Linked DNA regions of Homo sapiens. The protein of the gene in region 1 purifies or fractionates together with the protein of each later gene. This does not show direct contact. Each region holds a gene or a part of one and is shown on either strand. Other genes may lie near its edges.

Region 1 (3,724 bases):
GTTGCAGTGAGCCAAGATTGAGCCACTGTACTCCAGCCTGAGCAACTGAGTGAGACTCTGAAACAAAGAAACAAACAAAAGCAATGGTTAAAATGGAACAAGATGGTGCATACCTGTAGCTTCAGCTACTGGGGAGTCCAAGGTGGGAGGATTACTTGAAGCCAGGAGTCTGACACTAGCTTGGGCAACATAGCAAGACCCCGTCTCAAAAAAAAAAAAAAAAAGGCCGGGCACGGTGGTTCACGCCTGTAATCCCAGCACTTTGGGAGGCCAAGGCGGGCAGATCACAAGGTCAGGGGATCGAGACCATCCTGGCTAACACGGTGAAACTCCATCTCTACTAAAAAAAAAAAAATACAAAAAATTAGCTGGGCGTGGTGGCAGGCGCCTGTAGTCCCAGCTACTTGGGAGGCTGAAGCAGGAGAATGGCGTGAACCCAGGAGGCGGAGCTTGTAGTGAGCCGAGATCGCGCCACTGCACTCCAGCCTGGGCGACAGAGCAAGATTCCGTCTCAAAAAAGAAAAAAGTAAGTTATAATGGTAAGTTGTATGTTATATGTATTTTACCACAAAAAGGCCCGTTGTACTGGAAACAAAGAACAAATAAAAATGTAATAACCATTCCAAGCTCATGGGTGGTCCAAGAAGAAACATGAGCTGGACCTTGGCCCATGAGCAATGGCTTTCCAACTTCTGTTGCAGGTGATGCCATTGATGGAATAAACCATGATTTTTCTTTCTTCTTTTTGAGATGGAGTCTTGCTATGGTGCCCAAGCTAGTCATCCAGGATGGAGTGCAGGGGCACGATCTCAGTGCACTGCAACCTCCACATCCCGGGTTCAAGTGATTCTCCCACCTCAGCCTCCCAAGTAGCTGGGATTACAGGCACACGCCACCACGCCCAGTTAATTTTTGTATGTCTAATGGAGACAGGGTTTCATCATGTTGGCCAGGTTGGTCTCAAGCTCCTGACCTCAAGTGATCCGCCCGCCTTGGCCTCCCAAAGTGCTGGGATTACAGGCGTGAGCCACCGGCCATAAACCATGATTTTATTTACCAGTTCTATTGCTCATGGGCATTTGGGTATGAATGTGGTATGTCATTCTCACCCAGAGACATAATTATTATTACTATTTTAGAGAAGTGGTCTTGCTCTGTTGCCCAGACTGGAGTGCAGTGCTGTGATCATAAGTCACTGTAGCTTCGAACTCCCGGGCTCAAGCAATTCTCTCACGTCAGCCTCCTTAGTAGCTGGGACTACAAGTGCTTGTCCGCACCATGCCTAGCAAGAGGCATTAATTTTGTCATGTTTGCATCAGCCACCCTTGCATGCAAAACTCTGCTTGTCTACCTGTTCCTCAGACCACAGCCCCTGGCATTATCCCTGGGGCACCACCTCCTGACCAGTCTCTGGACATGAAGACGGAGGCCCTGTTGGAAGTGGGAAGGCTCCCTTCCTCCTCCAGCCCTTACTGTCTGCTCAGGGGCTTCCTCTTGGCCCCGGATGTGGGACCGGAGGGTTGGGGGCCCAGGGACTTATTAGCCAAGCCAGGAAGCCCCACCCCAAGAGGCCTCAAAGAAAGAGCTGCGGTGCAGGAATTCGTGTGCCGGATTTGGTTAGCTGAGCCCACCGAGAGGGTAAGTGACAGCTGCTCCTGCGCTTGCCATGGCACCAGCGGGGAGGCTGGGGTCAAGGCTGAGCCTCCATCCCTGTCCCCCACATGGGGGGACAGGGGTCCAGGTCCAGGGGCAGATCCTACTCCCTCCATGGGCCGGATCTTCCCCACAGGGCAGGGCTGATCCAGCTGTGGGTCTCTTGGTTCCCTCTTTCAGCGCCTGCAGGATGAAAGCTCTCTGTCTCCTCCTCCTCCCTGTCCTGGGGCTGTTGGTGTCTAGCAAGACCCTGTGCTCCATGGAAGAAGCCATCAATGAGAGGATCCAGGAGGTCGCCGGCTCCCTAAGTGAGGACCCCCCACTTGGGCAAGCTCCCCAAGGGTCTCAGAGACCTCACTGATCCCTGGCACAGACCTGACTCCAACCCAGCCCCAGCGCTCACCAAATCTCATCCTCAAATCCAACCAGATCATAAATTCAACCCCAACTCCACTCCCAACCCCTCCGACTGTCCCCACCTTATCCACGGCTCCAAACCCAATCCCCGCTCTCACTCCAAACCTTCCCTTACTCCAAAACACCCAACTCAAGACAGGGTCCTGGAGGCCAGTGAGCTCCTATGCCCACAGGGACCTAGCTCCAAACCAACAGGGCTAGGGGAGGATGGGGGAGGGACCGTTTGGTCTCACAGCTCCCCCTGTCTCCTTTCCTCCTGCCCCCCAGTATTTAGGGCAATAAGCAGCATTGGCCTGGAGTGCCAGAGCGTCACCTCCAGGGGGGACCTGGCTACTTGCCCCCGAGGTGAGTGCAGGAGACTGTTGTCCAGGCGCCCATTTCTGTTCCAAGTCCCCTGGGAATGCCCCCTCCCCGCCACGTTCCCCGTGTCCAGCCTCTACTCCCCTAGGATCTTGGTCCTGACTCCCAGCCTTCTCCGCCCACCATCTGGACACTGGTGTCCACCCTCACTCCCTGCCTCCAGTGCCCATTCAGTGGTTGGAGCCTCCAGCCGTCCCCGTCCCCACCCCCGCCCCCCCAACCCCCCTCCGCGCTCCCCACCCCCCTCCCGCTCCCACCCTCAGCCTCCCAGCTCAGAGTCCACGCTCCTGTGTTCCGGGCTGCAGGCTTCGCCGTCACCGGCTGCACTTGTGGCTCCGCCTGTGGCTCGTGGGATGTGCGCGCCGAGACCACATGTCACTGCCAGTGCGCGGGCATGGACTGGACCGGAGCGCGCTGCTGTCGTGTGCAGCCCTGAGGTCGCGCGCAGCGCGTGCACAGCGCGGGCGGAGGCGGCTCCAGGTCCGGAGGGGTTGCGGGGGAGCTGGAAATAAACCTGGAGATGATGATGATGATGATGATGATGATGATGGAGCGGATCTGAGCCCTGCGTGGTTTCTTTAGTAGGCCCGGAGGGACTGATCTAGCGTCTCCAAGAGAGTGGGGCGCGTAGCTGCTGGAGGGGGCGGGGACACCGCGACTTTCTACTGCCCCATCGCCCTTCCTCCTATGGGGTCTCCAACTGCTTCCTCCGAAAATAGGGCCTGAACTTCCTCTAGTGACGTCCCCACCCAAGGCTCATGGCTGCCTTCAAGAGGTGACGTCTCATCTTTGAGGCTACCTTGACGCTCACCCTGGGGTCTCCGACCTCCCCAGGAAGTGGCTGGGTCCTTTTCCCCCAGTCCTCATAATGAGGCTTCATCGAGGACCTGGGTCAGTCTGGGCAGTGGACGGGACCCTCCAGGGCCCCAAGACTCCAGGAGCCCCAGGTCAGGGTGGAACCCTGAATCATGTCTCAGCCCAGAGCTGGAACCTGTACCCCTCACTTCCTACCTGCAAGGAGGAATCCCCAAGGCACAGGCAAAGTTGGGTTACGGAGAGTCAGGGACGCCTACCTGACGTCACGCATCATCACAAGCTCACGTTTTCACACAGGCAAGTGCAGTTGTGAGTAGTTAGTTACAACCAGATACACGCAGGGTGCTTACCCCTTCCTGGATACTAGATTATGAAAACACAGAGCAGGGGACTTGTCTGCTCCTAGATCCCCCCCAGGGTTTCGTTTCTTCCCTTCCCTTCCCCTCCCCTCCCCTCCCCTCCCCTCCCCTCCCCTCCT
Region 2 (3,817 bases), on another chromosome or scaffold:
CATAGCCATTGGTTCCACCTTGTGACTCTCCCACATGGATTAGCTGTAGCACAACTTGCTTGCTTTCTTTTTTTATTTTTTTGAGACAGGGTCTCGCTCTGTCACCCAGGCTGGAGTACAGTGGCGTGATCATGGCTCACTACAGCCCTGCCTTCCAGTGATGCTCCCACCTCAGCCTCTTAAGTAGCTGGAACCACAGGTGTGTGCCACCATGCCTGGCTAATTTTTGTATTTTTGGTAGAGACGGGGTTTTGCCATGTTGCCCAGGCTGGTCTCAAACTCCCAGCCTCAAGCCATCTGCCTGCCTTGGCCCCTCAAAGTGCTGGGATTACAGGCATGAGCCACCATGCCCAGTAGACACAACTTTCAACCTGGGCTGAAAGACTTCAATTTGCTAAATCTAAGATTCACTCCTGATCCCTTTATTACATCTCTAGGCCGTTTGAAACTACTGCTCCTGTCCATTCTTGAAACTTTCTAACTTCCAGGACGTCTCTCCTGAGTGTCCTCGTCTGCACTCCCTTCTAGCCAGTCCACCAGGCTCACACTAAATGAATCTGCTCCTGTAAGCGCTGCAACAGTAAAACCGATACGGTGAGCGTGGAACCCAAGCTAAGCCAATCAGATTGTCCTTCTAGAGAATTTGGAATTGGGAAGTGGGAAGTGGAAAGACTGGGTCTGTGATGTGAGCTGGCAGAAGTTAGAGTTTCAGAATGGCCTTCCAGAGTGACCACCTGGGGTCACGTGTTATTTACTGCCAAGCGAGAGAAGAGATTAGGGGGAGGGCAGGCACACATAGAAGCATAGGGCAGACACACAGTGAGCAGGAGAAGCCTGGGAGATGAAGGCAAAGAGCACAGCCACACTGACTGCCACCAACTTCCCAGCGACTGGGCCCCAACCTCTGATGAAGACATCTACCTTCCTCTCTAATGACTTCTGTTACCTTGGCAGGCACTTTCTCCGCTACCTTTTCTCCACTTGTCCTTCAAGGTACCCATGCTCCAGCCATACTATTAACAGCCAGGTGGGCACTCACACATGGATGAAAGGGCACCACTCTGCCTATTTCCTGGCCTGCCCCTACGTGGAAGGGACCAGTTTACCAAGATGAAGAGAAATCACTCCCAGAAGTCAGGTGTACTCTGACAACAGGATGACTGACAAAAGGACCACTAATGCCCAGAGGAACCTCCACCACCCACTCAGAGAGGCAAGAGTCTACCCAATGAACCCCAAAGACAATCATGGTATTATCTGAAGTCGAGGTCATGCAGTCTCAAATAATTCTATGTGAAAAATATCAATGGTCCAGTCTATCTAGACAGATATGCCCCAATTTACAGAAGTACAACTATATTGCAAGAAAAATTTACCATGTAGAAATATTGATTTTAATACCATAGCTATGTATAGTATCTAGTCATTCTTACAGCAAAACATGTGTACTGTAAAATTATTCTTTGTAAATCCTCTTCGTGACACACCTATGTGTCCTATAAGACCTTCAAACTCAAGTACATCCAAAACTGAATCAGTCACTTCCTCACCAAAGCCTACTATATTCCTGTCTTAATCTGTTTTCTATTGCTTACAAGAGAATACCTGAAACTGGATAATTTATGAAGAAATTTATCTCTTACAGTTATGGAGGCTGAAAAAGCCCAGGACCACATCTGGTGACAGCTCTCCTGCTGGTGGGGACTCTCCAAAGAGCCCTGAGCCGGCACAGGGCATCACACGATGAGAGGGGGCTGAGCATGTTAACATGCTGTCTCAGATCTCTTTTCTTTTTATAAAGCCCCCAGGTCCCCTCCCATGACAACCCATTAATCTATGAATGGCTCTGCCCTCATGAGCCAAACCTCTGAAAGGCCCCACCTCTCAACACTGTCACATTGGGGATTAAGTTTCAACATGAGTTTTGGAGGGGACAAATATTCAAACCATAGCCAATTCCCAACTATAGTAAATGAGTCCACTCTCCCCTCAATTGCCCAAGTCAATATCATTGACTTCCCCCCATCACAAAGGTCTAGCCACTCTCTTCCAAATACCTCTGGAAACTCTCCACTGTGTACCTGCATTGTCTCAACTTAACTCAAGCCACCATCATCTTCCCTGGAATTCTACAAAAGCCTCCAGTCTTGCTTCCCTCTAATCCATTATCTACTCTAATGTAACCTTCTAAAATGCAAAATGGATTGTTCTTACCCTACTCACAAGTTTTCAATGGGTCCCAATCATTTTCAGTGTAAATTCCAAATTTATTCATTGGCTTTAACCAAAAAAAAAAGTGCTCATGTCTATTTGCCATGTAGCTATCATGTCCCAGATATACTTTGTTAAATCAAATGTTCCATCATACATGTAATACAGGTACATGTAATCTTGGCAAATACAAAAAAGATTATTTAAATCACCCGACATCCTACCGAATTCCACAATTCTTAAGATTTCCATCTAATTTCTTCTACATATTTTTGCCATTCATAGGTTTTACTGGAAGGCTGCTGGGACTTTTTTTGGGGCGTTTTCATCATATCAGGTATACAATTGTGTATCCTGATTTCCTTCCACTTAACACTATCATAAGCATTTTAATATATTTTCTTCATAAACGTTTTTAATGGCAATGTTATTTGCCACTAAATATATGATATAGGGGATGTATCATAACCATTCTGCAAACTGTGCCCATAAATATAATTCTACAATATACATATTTTGTGCAGAAAGCTTTTCTCTGTATTTAAAAATATTCTTTTGATGGTTCCTAGACCATCAAGAAATGTAAATAATTTTAAGACTCTTGACACATATGGCCAATGTAACATAAGAGTGTGTCATTTTTACCACATCCTTTTAGGTACTAGGCACTGTATATTTTTGTCTAAATCTAGACCTTCATGAAATTGGTGAGAAATTGTAACATCTTCCTTACAAAAGTAAATGCCCATTGTAAAAAAAACTGAAGCAATGCAAACACATGTGATATGAAAAACCAGTCTCCCCTAGGCTTTTCCCATGAAGTAATCAGAATTAAATGTTTTCAGGTATTCTAGTCTTTTTCTAATTCTTATTCAGAATATATATATATACACACACTCACCCTTCATTATTTTGTTTTGTATCTTACAAAAAATGAGATTAAGCTTGCTTTTTTGGCTCAACAGTATATTCTAGACATCCATACAGGCTATGTCAGTACATACAAATCTACCTCTCTATATAAAAAACTAATAGGCTAGACATGGTGGCTCATGCCTGTAATCCCAACACTTTGGGAGGCCAAGGCGGGAGGATCACTTGAGGCCAGGAGTTCAAGACTGGCCTGGGTAACGTGGTGAGACTCCGTCTCTACAAAAAAAATTTAAAAATCAGCCAGGTGTAGTGGTGTGTGTGTGTGTGTGTGGTCCCAGCTACTTGAGAGGCTGAGGCAGATCACTTGAGCCCAGGAGGCTGAGGCTACACTGAACCACATTCCGTACCACTGCACTCCAGCCTAGGCAACAGAGCAAGACCCTGTCTCAAAACAAAACAAACAAAAAATCCCACAAAAAACAAAACGCTACTTGATATTCCACAGTATATGGGTACCAAAATTTATTGTGATTATCTTCAATTTTTCATTATAAATGACGCTGCAATAGACATTGTTTATATTAACGTATGTTCTCCTATGAAAATAGCACAGATTCCTTGAAGTGTAGCTGCTAAATCAACGTGTACTTTTATTTTGATAAAATTCTGCCAAAATTGCCATCTAAAAACTTGGAAAAATTTTATGTCCCAACAATGTATTAGGTGCCTCTTT

The links.
Region 2: the proteins of RETN (region 1) and ZNF664 purify together in Homo sapiens (affinity purification with mass spectrometry; one large-scale study listed by BioGRID and IntAct). This does not show direct contact.

Annotation. Positions count from the first base shown.
Region 1 is NC_000019.10:7,667,484-7,671,207, forward strand, and holds RETN (resistin isoform a precursor), read left to right. Parts: upstream 1-1,565; 5' UTR 1,566-1,638; intron 1,639-1,789; exon of another isoform or gene 1,790-1,833; 5' UTR 1,834-1,843; coding exon 1,844-1,961; intron 1,962-2,337; coding exon 2,338-2,415; intron 2,416-2,693; coding exon of another isoform or gene 2,694-2,735; coding exon 2,736-2,866; 3' UTR 2,867-2,972; downstream 2,973-3,724. UniProt on the Homo sapiens protein: Hormone that seems to suppress insulin ability to stimulate glucose uptake into adipose cells. Potentially links obesity to diabetes. Promotes chemotaxis in myeloid cells.
Region 2 is NC_000012.12:123,979,412-123,983,228, reverse strand, and holds part of ZNF664 (zinc finger protein 664), read right to left. Parts: intron 1-3,817. UniProt on the Homo sapiens protein: May be involved in transcriptional regulation.